3 separate regions of the Homo sapiens genome follow, and regions 2 and 3 are each reported to be linked to region 1. Evidence: microRNA targets listed by miRTarBase, many of them from high-throughput screens and not tested one by one. Region 1 holds a microRNA gene; each other region holds the end of a gene's coding sequence.
What was found. The annotated mature microRNA hsa-miR-4524a-3p reads UGAGACAGGCUUAUGCUGCUAU and lies in region 1 at 1,235-1,256, shown strand. An mRNA with a match to its seed (bases 2 to 7 or 8) in the 3' UTR can be bound and repressed. Matches are read on the target gene's strand: a 7mer-m8 pairs with bases 2 to 8, a 7mer-A1 pairs with bases 2 to 7 and ends in A, and an 8mer does both.

Region 1 (4,068 bases):
TTCGAATTGAGTCAAGCCCATTTCCTCTTGTAAGTATTGGATTTACTGAGTCTAAACAATTAAGAATTGGACAAATAGCCTATGTTTTCTCTCTTTAGCTTTTAAATATCCATAAGTGATTGTTAAGCCTGAAAATTATTATTTTATCCTAATATTTTCAATGGGTTATAGCAAACAAAACAGGATTTTTTTTTCCTGCCAAGTTATCAGATAATTATCGTGAGGGAATACTTTTCAATATTTTGTCAGTCTTCTAGGCAATGTTTTGAAAAGTTGTACATACTTGATTGTGGAAGTGTATGAGAAAGAGAAACAGAAAAAAGAAAACACTGACTTGGAAATCAGGAGAACTTGTAACCCTGGTTACATATAAATCTATTATAATTAGTTAGTGGACCCTCCATTGACTAAATGTGTAGTAGACAGACTAATATGAAGGAGAATCTGCCAGTTCTGGGGCTATCTGTTGATTTATTTATTCACCTACTCATAGTTGCTCTATGTTGTGAGGGAGCCTAATACACACAGGCTGCATTGGATTCTGTGTCAGTTGGCTATAGTCTGGCTTCAGACAGTTTGGACACTAGAAAGCAGTGGTGGGAGACAGAAGAGCAGAGGACCCCCTACATTGGGCTCCAGTCACATCACCTCCTTCTGCTGTTCCTGAAGCCCAGAAGCAACAATAGCTTGCTTCTCACTTCACCATCTTTGTGGGATGCTCATCACCCACCTAACCATGTCATAAGGAATTGCACTCTAAGAACTTAACGTAGTCATGGTTTTCTGGTTAGACCCTGCCTGATACCAACAGGGGTGTCTCAAAGCTGACTCCAACTGTTTCACACCAGAAGTCTGAAACATCAAGAAGCAGGATTAGAAATGAAGCCATCCAAAGGGAAGTCCATTTTGTGACAAAAGTGTGAAGCTCAGTTTTGGCTTCACTGAATCAGTGGTGCTGGGAGTATATGCAAGCACAGGTTTTCTGTAAGCCATGGGAACAATGGGGATGAAATATACAGTACTTGAGATGTTCGTGACAGACACATACCTCCGTGAGTTGAGTATGACCGACTGATCACGTAAACAGGTCTGCTGCACAGGATGACTCGAGGGAAGGGGTGTCTGAAGGGAATTCTCCAGAAAGTGGAACCAGAGGAGTAGCAGAAAGAGACAGTGATTACCCTTCCTCTTTGGAACGATAGCAGCATGAACCTGTCTCACTGCAGAATTATTTTGAGACAGGCTTATGCTGCTATCCTTCAAAAGAACACATCCACCCAGCTACTGAGGTTTCCATCTCTGGGTTTGCTCAGAAAGACATGCTGCTCAGGCCTGAATTATGTGTTCATCAAAGGTCCTAACTTCTGAATTATTAGCTTCCTAATGCCATTGTGTTTGCTCAGGATCAAAATGGACTGAAGCCCATAGCTACTCTATTAGAAACCTGTTCCCCACTCCCACTTCCCCATGGCACACACCTTTCCTCCCTCATTCCTATGATGAAAAACAGAATTTATAGACATAGCCCTCAAAGTCTTAAATAAAGTTAAATAATTGTGGAATTATTTTGAGACAGGCTCATGCTGTTATCCTGTAATTATATCCATGAGGTGGTCCTAGATGCTGCTAGAGTGTCCACTTGGCCTAGCCTCAAGTGGATGCTGATTTGGGGGTAGTGATTTAAAGTTCCTTTCCCTGAAGTTAAGACAAGCAGCAACAAGTTTTCTTCTTGGTTCTGTGCTTCAGAACACATCCACCCAGCTACTGAGGTTTCCATCTCTGGGTTTGCTCAGAAAGACGTGCTACTCAGGCCTGAATTATATGTTCATCAGAGGTCCTAACTTCTGAATTATTGTTTTTTTGTTGTGGTAATAATACATGATATAAAATTGACCATTTTAGCTGTTTGCAAGTGTACAGTTGAGTAGTATTAAGTATATTCACATTGTTGTGAAATGCATCTCCAGAACTTTGCCGTCTTGCGGAATTGAAACTCGATGCCAATTAGCTTTCCCCCTCCCCCATCCCCTGGAAATAACCATCCTATTATGTTTCTATGAATATTACTAGTTTAGAAACCTTATATAAGTGGAATATTTGTCTTTTTGTAACTGGTTTATTTCACTTAGCATATTTTCCAGGTTCGTCTATGTTGTAGCATGTGACAGGATTTCCTTCTTTTTTTTTTTTTTTTTTTTTTGAGACCGAGTTTTGTTCTTGTTGCTCAGGCTGCAGTGCAATGGGGCGATCTCTGCTCACTGCAACCTCTGCCTCCCAGATTCAAGCGATTCTCCTGCCTCAGCCTCCCAAGTTGCTGGGATTACAGACATTTACCACCACACCTGGCTGATTTTGTATTTTTAGTAGAGATGGGGTTTCACCATGTTGGTCAGGCTGGTTCAGACTCCTGACCTCAAGTGATCCTTTTTAAGGTTGAATAGTATCCATTGTTTGTATATACATACACATTTTGTTAATCCATTAATTTGGACTTTTGGGTTGCTTCCACTTGTGAGTATTGTTGGTATGAATATGAATGTGAGGGTATCTCTTCGAGAGCTTGCTTTCAATTCTTTTGGAAATATCCCCAGAAGTAGGTCCTAAATGACTTTTGACTTCTCTTTGTTCTTTGAGTTGAAGATCAGAGTCACTTTCCCTCCCACCTTCGTGCCTAGATGGTAATGAGCTACACCTTTACTTTGATTTTTCAACATTTCAAAAAGTGCATTTTTGTGGCTATAATTATTTGTTTCATTTAACAAATATTCACTAGTTTAAGCTACCCTTTATATTTTCAGAGCCACATAGGACTCTGGACTGGGTTGCCGGATGGTTCCTTTTTCTTATTTTTGGTTCTATGTAGCATTTCTCCTTATATCACCATGGGCAGCATCAGTGATTACAAGGTAAGAAAAAGCAGGGAAAAGAAGAAATTTCAGGAATTTCAATATCTGTATTTTGAATGCTATGTGTTCAAAATGTTTTCTTCTGACAAAAACATTTGAATGTATGTTTAATTTAGATATTGTAGCTAAACCTTATTCTTGGCAAGTCAGATAATTTACTTCTAAAAACTCAAAATGCTTTTTATTCCAAAGTCACCTGAAAAGTACAGTGATTTTTCAGAGACTCCAATTAGTCTAAACCTTCAAAGGGAAATATTATAAATCTTTTGACCACATTATTTCCCAGCCACAAGAAGGAAATCATTGATGTTGAAATCAAAGGCCAAATTTAAGACTTGAATTCCTTTTCCACTCTGGAAATTGCAATTTTATGTTATATTTGTATTCGATTATGCCCATTATTCAGACAAAGCAGTTAAATCTATCAACGTTCACCATCCTGAGCCAGAAACTCTCCAAGATGTTTAGGTAAAGGTAAATGTATTATGTCCTCCAGGTCACAAAATAATACTTTTTTTTTTTTTTTTTTGAGATGGAGTCTCACTCTGTTGCCCAGGCTGGAGTGCAATGGTGCAAAATCGGTTCACTGCAAACTCCGCCTCCCGGGTTCAAGCAGTTCTTCTGCCTCAGCCTCCTGAGTAGATGGGATTACAGGCTTGCACCACCATGCCCAACTACTTTTTGTGTTTTTAGTCAAAATGGGCTTTCACCATGTTAGCCAGGATGGCCTCAATCCCCTGACCTTGTGATCCACCCGCCTTGGCCTCCCAAAGTGCTGGGATTACAGGCGTGAGCCACCATGCTGGCCAATACTTATTTTTATAGAGTTTAATGCCTTGAACATTATGAGGTCCACTTTTCATTATTCATGAGCTAAAGTTGTGTTATGAGTCAGGCCTATCACAGTATACATTTTATTTTTGATAGACACCTTGTAAACCATGGAACTGGCTCTATAAGCCTCATGTTACTAAGCAGTATATGCATAATTTTTTTTAATATTAGAAGATTAGATTATATTTATCTTAAAAATTCTTCCAATGTGTTTGTGTTTATTTTAGATTTGCATTTTAATTGAATCTATATACATTTCTTTCTTTCTTTTTTTTTTTAATCAGAAAAATGCTAAGTCCCAGCTATGGATTTCAGGCCTCTACACTTC
Region 2 (4,060 bases), not on the chromosome of region 1:
AGCCCCAGCTAATTTTTGTATTTTTAGTAGAGACAGGGTTTCTCCATGTTGGCCAGGCTGGCCTTGAACTCCTGGCCTCAAGTGATCTGCCTGCCTCGGCCTCCCAAAGTGTTGGGATTATAGGCGTGAGCCACTGGCGCCCGGCCCGCTGAGGGTTGTAATCTGCACCTGTCACCAGTGTGGTTTCTGCAACAGCAGTTTCCTGTTCCCAAAATTTCTTCTATATTAGAATTAATAAGACAGACCTGGCCCTCCCCCCACTGACATGTTTACGCAATTACTTATGTTGTATAGACTACTGGATATCAATTTATTCTGAGGGCTACAGCCCATTACAATAATTAATTTTCTTTCTTTTTTTTTTTTTTTTTTCCTTTGGTGAGACAGGGTCCGGCTCTGTTGCTCAGGCTGGAGAGCAGTGGTACAATCACAGCTCACTGCAGACTTAACCTCTGGCTCAAGTGATCCTCCTGCCTCAGCTTCCTGAGTATCTGGGACTACAGGCGGGTGACACCACGCACGGCTGACTTTTCTTGTTTTGTAGAGACAGGGTTTCACCCATGTTGCCCAGGCTGGTCTTGAACTCCTAGCCTCAAGTGATCCTCCCACCTTGGCCTCCTAAAGTGCTGGGATTGCAGGCGTGAGCCGCTGCGCCCAGCCTGTTTATTTTCACGCTCACACTGCCCCAGGCTGGCCACCGTATGCTCCTTCCCATCCCCCCGTGTTATTTCAACAAGTCTCCTCATCCCAGCAATTCTTCACTCTCTAGCTCATCTGATACCTTCTCTGGCCTGGCCCTGGTTCCTTTTGGTTACAGAATGGTATCAGGGCCAAGACCCTGAGTGCACGGGTCACTGCGTCCAGGCCCTCAAGAGCTGGGAAGCATTTGTGCACAGCCCCTCACAACAGTCCCCCTTACACACGGTTTCAGTTACCCATGGTCAGCCACAGTCCAAAAATACTAAGTGGAAAATTCCAGAAATAAACCATTCATGAGTTTTTGATTCTGTGCTGTTCTGAGCAGCCGTCCTGCTGGGACATCAACCCTCCCTCCGTCCAGCGTTTCGGGCCATCCACGCCACCCTGCCTGCCAGGCACTCAGCAGCCATCTCGGTGATCAGACCAGCCATCGCGGTGATGTGGTGCTTGGGTCCAAGAAGCTTTTATTTTACTTAAGAATGGCCCCAGAACAGGACAGTGGTGATGCTGGCGACTCAGACACACCAGAGAAGCTGCCAAGCGCTTCCTTTAAGGGAAAAGGTGGAAACTCCTGACCTATAAGAAAAACAGCCAGATGCCGAGGTTGCTAAGATCTCCGGTAAGAACACAGTGCCCATCTGTGACATTTTGAAGAGGGAAGCACGAAGTTCTGTCAGTTTTGCTGTCACATCTCAGACTTGATCACAGGTACGTACAGGAAAAAACAGCGCCTGGACAGGATTCGGGACTATCCGCGGCTTCGGCACCTGCTGGGGTCTCGGAGCACACCCTGGCCAGGTGAGGGCGATCACTCCGTTTCTCTATCCAGTTACCTTTGTACGTTAGAAAAGCAGGAGCTCAATACACCTGGCTCTCATCATCCACGATGTATTTCTAGTTTTTTCCATCTCAGAATACAGCTTCAGAATCGTCCACGCAAAAAACAAATTTACTACTTAGAGTACAGTATCTTTCCTGTCTTTCCCACCTTTGGTCGACGGTCTTCCCCACACTCCTGATGGGTCAGAGTGCGGTGCGAGCGGAGAGGCAGGCCCGACCCGGGCCTGGGCACTCCCGACGGCGGGTCAGAGTGCGATGGGAAGAGGCCCCGGCCTGGGCCCGGGAGCTCCGTCGGCATGGTCTGTTGTGTTCCCCTCACATCCTGGTTCATTTACTTTTTGAGCATGTGAAACCCTCTGCCATGACAGCCAGAACTCCACCCCCAGGGGTGCTCGGAGGGGCTCGCGGCCGGCTATGCCCATCAGTTCCAGCTCCTCCTTCTGGATTTCTCGTTTGTAGTTTCCTGTGTCCCTGCCTGTCTCCACTTCACAGTAAGCTCACGCCATATAGCCGCACTGCGTTGGCGAGCTCATGGCACGTGGCCACACCGCGTCAGCGCCGACTCCACGGTGGCTGCGTCACGGCTCACGTGCACTGTGAGGACACTGGGGTTGCTATAGACAGTGCTGGGGCAACCCTGTGCCTACACAAAATATTCTAATAAGAAACAAGACTTTCCATCAACTAGCGGTGATATGTTAATACGTCTGCAGCACTCAGAGGCCTGACAGAGAGCAGACACGGGACAGTGACAGCTGCAGCCGAATCAGGTGGTAGAACCCATGGGTGCAGGGACACAGGGTTGGGCGGGCCCAGCCGCAATAGGTACTCAGTTCTGTGAGGAGGGGAGGGACATGTTTAACCACGAAAGGGCCACCACTGCAGGACAGAAACAGAGGGCCTTTGCTGCAGAGAACTGGAGATGGGCTGAGAAGCCTCAGCCACCCACAGGCAGAGGGACGAGGGCAGCCTGTTTCCCAGAGCCTGAGGTCGGCCAGATTGGTGGCCCCACCTGCCAGGGCTTGGAGACAGCCACTGCCAGGGTCGCCAGAGAGGACGTGACCTGGACCTCCCCACCCCGTCTCCTGCCACCATCCTCCACTGACCAGACAGGAGCCAGCCCCTTTCCGACAGTGCCTGGGAAGGAGACAGGTCTGGCTGAGGCCCCAGATGTGCAGGCACCTGCGTTCCATCCACAGGTTTGGGCCCCGGCTGGCCTGACGCACTGGGTGGACATGGGCCGGGTTTCCGTGACCCACAGGCAACTTTGGCACAGACGGGCTGAGAACTCCGCTCAGGGCCCCTGCCAGGCTGTGCTGCGAACACGTGCCGGGGTCTCGGGCGGAGCTGGCTGGCACAGAAGACAGCTGGTGCGAGCCTAACTGCAAATGGACTCAGGTTCTTTTTCTGTTAAAATACAGGAGTTACTGAAATTAAATACCCAACTTTATAAATACGGTCTGATACAAACCAGAAAATGACCCTTTGATTATGAAGCTACTTGGTGTTCAGGCAAAACCAGAAAGAATCAAGAAGTCAATCCATCCAAAGCCAGAAGGTTCTCACTTCCTACTTTGTGTTCCACTTTTTTTTTTTTTCAAAGGAAATGAACTGGCATATACGAATACAAACACGAAAACATCCTGCTAGGGAATGGTAATTTTCTGATGATATCTGTGTTCAGAAGGGACTGAAATTTATACATTTACCTCTTTGAACTCAGAAAGTATCAGAGGACTGCAACATAAAACCGCCCCATACAAGAGGGCCCCGGCCTCGAAGACAAGGGTCTTGCCCCACGCTCGCCTCCCTCCCAGCTTTGCCGGGAACGCCGTCCCACTCAGGGGTTCAATGCAGAAACACCCTCCTAAGGGAAAACGGGACGCCACTCCCTACCCAGGAGACGCCCCCACAGGGCTGGAGCTTCTATTCGAAGCCCATTTCTAAGGACACCACACGCAGGCCTCAGCCAACCTAAGAGGCAGGATGATGCCCTCCGTCCTGAGAGACCACTGAACACGGCCCAGGGGTCTTCTCATCAAAATTCATTTTTTTGCCTCTGATTTTCCACTAGTCAAGTCTCCAAATCCCAGTTTCTCCAATGGTTCTTGTAGCATCAATTTTCTAAAAGAAAAAGAGAAAGCTGTCAGGGCGGGAGGTGCAGAGAGGACAAGAGGGGCCCTTGCAGGCCCCGGCTTCCCAGCGCACACCGGGGGTCCTGCCACCTCCATCTATGTCCTGGGAGAGTGGCCCCTCGGCCTCGGCCCCCGTGGCTGGTGCCTTCCCCACTGGGCAGAGTCAACAGGACAATGAGGACATGACCACCTAGAGACGTCCCAGGGCCTAAGGCCTGGGGCCTCTTGGGATGTCCAAGAGGGGCAGCTGCACCCGCTGCCCCCAGCACACAACACTTCCCCACGTCCTGCTAAAAGATGTATCTGGACAACAGCTTCACGCTGACCTCTCAGACTTGCTTTGATTGGCAGGATAATGACCCCTAAAGGTGTTCACGCCCTAATCC
Region 3 (4,060 bases), not on the chromosome of region 1:
GTCCCAGCTACTCAGGTGGCTGAGACGAGAGGCTAGCTTGAGCCCAGGAGGTCCAGGCTGCAGTAAGTCATGTTCACACCACTGCACTCCACAGCCTGGGTTACGGAGCCAGACCCTATACCCCCCAGCCCAAAGAAAAACAAAAACAAAAAAGAAGAATTTCACGATGGCAGCTACAGAGCCCTAAAGTCCAAGCACAGGGCCCTTTGCAGTCACACCTTTGTGCTTCTCACTCAATTTTCTGTTTTTCGTATCGATCCTGAAAGCTCTTGTTCTCTGTAGGTGATTTATATTTGTTTCTATTGTAAATTGATTTTTTTCTCCACAATGTTTGCTAAGTGGTTAGTAATGGTATATAGGAAAATCATTTTGTACAGTTAGCTTTTATCGCTATTTTAGAATTTTCATCTTTCACTAATATAGAGATGAAATTCTATAGTTTCAATATAAATTCTCTTGGGTTTTCTTTTTTTACATTTCTGTTTTTCAAGACAGGGTCTCACTCAGGCTAGCATGCAATGGTGAGATCACAGCTCACTGCCACCTCAAATTCCTGGGCTTAGGTGATCTTCCCACCTTAGCCTCCCCAGTAGCTGGGACTACAGGTACACACCACCATGCCCAGCTAGTGTTTTTTTTTTTTGTAGAGATGTGGGTCTCACTATGTTGCTGACATTGCTCTCAAACTCCTGGCCTCAAGCATTCCTCCTGCCTTGCCTCCAAAAGCGATTACAGGCGTGAGCCACAACACCCAGCCTTCTCTTGGGTTTTCTACATAAAATAACCATCTACAAATAATAGCTATCATTTGTTCTAAGTTCAGACAACAACCCCATGAAGCAGTAATATTATTAACCCCATTTCACAGCTGAGGGATCTGAAACAAGAGATTTGTTCAGGGCCAATGAGCTAATAAGTAGCAGAATAAAATTCAAAACCAAATCCAAGCCTTCCAGCTTCAGAGTTCATGTCCTCACCAACAGACAATAATAGCTCTATATTGATTACATTAACTCCTTTTTTCTCTACTTTTATGTCTGTTTGAAGACTGAGTACCTTGGTAGAACTGCAAGAACAAGGTTGATTGATTGTGGTGACAGCAAATATTCTTGTCTTCTTAATTTTAACTGACAAATGTCTCTAATGTTTCATTTTTAGGTATAGCTTAACCAGAAAACCTCTGTAGCATGAGAATATTAATAATAATGTATATTTTCCTAAGAAAGAACCAAATCAATTTTTGGAAGAGGGACGGATTGTGAAACTTTATTGATAAAGAATTCCGTTCCAAAGGTGTATTCCAGTCACATTTACCCTACATAAAATACCAACATCTTCTTATTGCAAAAACAGAAACTCCGGCCGTTGTATTGATGCTGACTTAAGAGAAATAGAAGCCTCTATATAAGGCAAGAGTCCATACCAGAAGAATTCGACCAATATGAGATACCTCCAAAAAAATCAACTCAATAACCTACTTTATATGTAAGAGACCCAAAAAAGTCAGCTTTTGTGGGAAGTTGATATGCAGTTTATTGAACAAACAGAGTGTACAGTAACTAAACGAACTGTGTATTTCCAAAGGAATTAAGACCGCATATCTGGATTCACACCTAAAAGCACATAGAAAATTAAACCAAAGAAGGGCAAGTTTTGTACTAAAATCACTTGGGCCCAGGTTATTCTATAAGAAGATTCTCACTGGCATTTGATAGTAACTTATCACCTTCTGTGCGAGCTTGGGAACCAGCTGACTCAGTGAACTGCTTCCTGTCTTCAGTGCGTGATGACACAGATGTGTCAAGCTTAATAGATCTTATATGTAAATTTAAGAATAAGAAGTTTTATACCCACCCTGGTTTTATTCCAAAGTTACTGCTCTGCAATTTTGGGCTCCATCCTTAGGAAGATACTGGAAAAGCAAGAGAACCTTTCTCAGCTGCCTGTGTGAAGTGACGTTGTTCTAGAACGGTGCCCTGGGGCCTCATGCACGATTTCACAAGTATAGCTGCATAATCTGTGGATGTCACTGAATGGAAGAAGAATCATCAATGGTATATTTAGGTTATAGAAGGTTCCACTGAGATAAGAAAAGGTTCTACAATGCAGGTAGCTGTCAAGCCTCCTAAATATTTAACTCGTTTTAGTTAACATCACACTGTGCATTGAGTGCAAGATTCTTTGGTTACACCATATTAACCACCAGGAGGATAACTCCTGGTTTGTAAAAGACATCAGTGGTTCTTAACGGAGGGGTGATATGGCCCCAGGAGACATCTGACTATGTCTGGAGAGAATTTTTCACAGCTCTAGCGGGGGTGCTACTGGCACCTAATGGATATGGATGGCAGGAATGCTGCTGAACATTCTACCATGCACAGGGTGGCCCCACAACAAACACCTCTCAGGCCACTAATATGAATAGTCCCGAGGTTGAAATGTCCTGAAAAAGGTTCAGAAAACATGTCTAGACGTTTGCAAAGTCAAATGTATATTATGGAGGCTGCAAGGCGCCCCTTGCATCTCACAGCTGAGGGACCCCGTCACCTCTCACCATCAGAGGCCCATTCATTCCCGCCTTCCATTCCAGGCCCAGTGCCTGCTCCTTCTCACTGAAGAACTCAATAGAGATTTGCTGAATGAATGAGGGAAAAATAAGCTAGAAGCATAGTTTAAAGTCTTCCATCGACTACATTAAACAGCAATTTTATGTGGCCTAAACTTTATTCTGAACCTTAGTGGTGTCATAGTCTCTGACTATATAGAACCTCAAAGTTAAGGCTAACACGTTCTTAAAGATGGAGTGCACATCTTAAGGGGAGTTTGTCTAAACACTTCTCGAGTCATTTTAGTGGGACAAACCAAATAAAATGGTGCTAAAGGCAAACATTCAATATACTTCATTTTAAACTAAAAAATTAACATATAAAATGCCATGCACAGCAGACACCATTCTTTTTTTTACATATTTACAATTTTACATATTTACTTATCAATATAATTTCTATCTTTACAATTATAAAATTATTCCAAACTGTGGAAGAGTGGTACCATTTAATTTTCTTGAACATACACTTTGTAGCATTCATTTGTTTAATCCTTTAAAAGGCAATTATTTACCAAAACCACAGTGAATGCCAGAGGAAGCACATAGGAAAATCATGGAGGGAAAAAAGATTGAGACAAAATTTGCACACAAGCCTTAAATGAATCTGTATCAGTAACTCAAATAAGTAGTATTTTATTATTAACTAAGGTTCCCCTGCTAGGAAAAACGAAACAATCCCCATATACTGTACCTTTAAAAAATGCTGACATTTATAAGCAATTTAGTTACATTCTAGATCCCAATCAGTTGAGTGTAGTAAGGGCTACCTACAATTTAGGCTCAAATAAATACTCTCCACTAAATTGTGATCATCCTGCATAAACTTGAGGTTGCAGTGGTGGAGGAAGTTTATCATTTTCAACGTTTTCAGAGTCAATAGCTGCTAACGGTTGATTCGGAGGCTTAATTTCCAGTGGGTATTTCTCAACGATGTCTTGAACTTCTCTTGCAATTCCATCTGTCCAATCTATGAGGTCTTTTTCCAGTTTCTTGGCTTCATTCATGATCCTTTCTTGTCGTTCATTCAACTGAGACAAGAGATCCAAGTTCTTATACATTTGCTTGACGCCTAAGCAAGCATCAGGAGACCAACTCTCAGCTTCTTGCTTCCTGGGAGAGGTCTGGCCAGACATGTAGCGATCAAAATCCTCCTGACTTAGATTCAAAGACTGGGCGTCTAGCTTCTCAATGAAAGCCACAGCACAGCACTACAAGAAGAGGACGTTAATACAGTCATATTAGGAAAGCTATGCATACTCGAGTCGATTTGTAAAAATCTTTTGATCACAGACCATTTAAAACAGAAGCTAAAGTAAACAAAACAAACTCATGAACTTCTGTGTATTTCAGCCTCAAAAATTACCTACTCCTATCCCCGGTCGTGCTTCCTATACACTCCCAGGAGCTCCAGGGCCGATGTCTGGGTGCAGCCTCCCCAGGTGCACCATGAAG

Region 2: miRTarBase lists COX19 as a target of hsa-miR-4524a-3p. Seed matches in the 3' UTR shown: 7mer-m8 at 2,685-2,691, 7mer-m8 at 2,565-2,571, 7mer-m8 at 544-550, 8mer at 380-387 and 7mer-m8 at 30-36.
Region 3: miRTarBase lists RABGEF1 as a target of hsa-miR-4524a-3p. Seed matches in the 3' UTR shown: 7mer-A1 at 3,179-3,185.

Annotation. Positions count from the first base shown.
Region 1 is chr17:69,096,758-69,100,825 of GRCh38, reverse strand. MIR4524A (microRNA 4524a) reads left to right here and starts at 1,194; the gene lies at 1,194-1,262. ABCA6 (ATP binding cassette subfamily A member 6) reads left to right here. Exons shown (of 39, transcript NM_080284.3): 22 at 1-29; 23 at 2,799-2,906; 24 at 4,025-4,068. MIR4524B (microRNA 4524b) reads right to left here and starts at 1,284; the gene lies at 1,170-1,284.
Region 2 is chr7:965,794-969,853 of GRCh38, forward strand. It overlaps COX19 (cytochrome c oxidase assembly factor COX19), which reads right to left. Exons shown (of 3, transcript NM_001031617.3): 3 at 1-3,663. The coding sequence ends at 3,585. Among named protein-coding and RNA genes, the nearest start is that of COX19, 7.7 kb to the right of the region's middle. RefSeq lists enhancers at 1,277-1,777, 1,778-2,278.
Region 3 is chr7:66,808,642-66,812,701 of GRCh38, reverse strand. It overlaps RABGEF1 (RAB guanine nucleotide exchange factor 1), which reads right to left. Exons shown (of 9, transcript NM_014504.3): 9 at 1,238-3,816. The coding sequence ends at 3,418. It also overlaps the pseudogene GTF2IRD1P1. Among named protein-coding and RNA genes, the nearest start is that of RABGEF1, 70 kb to the right of the region's middle.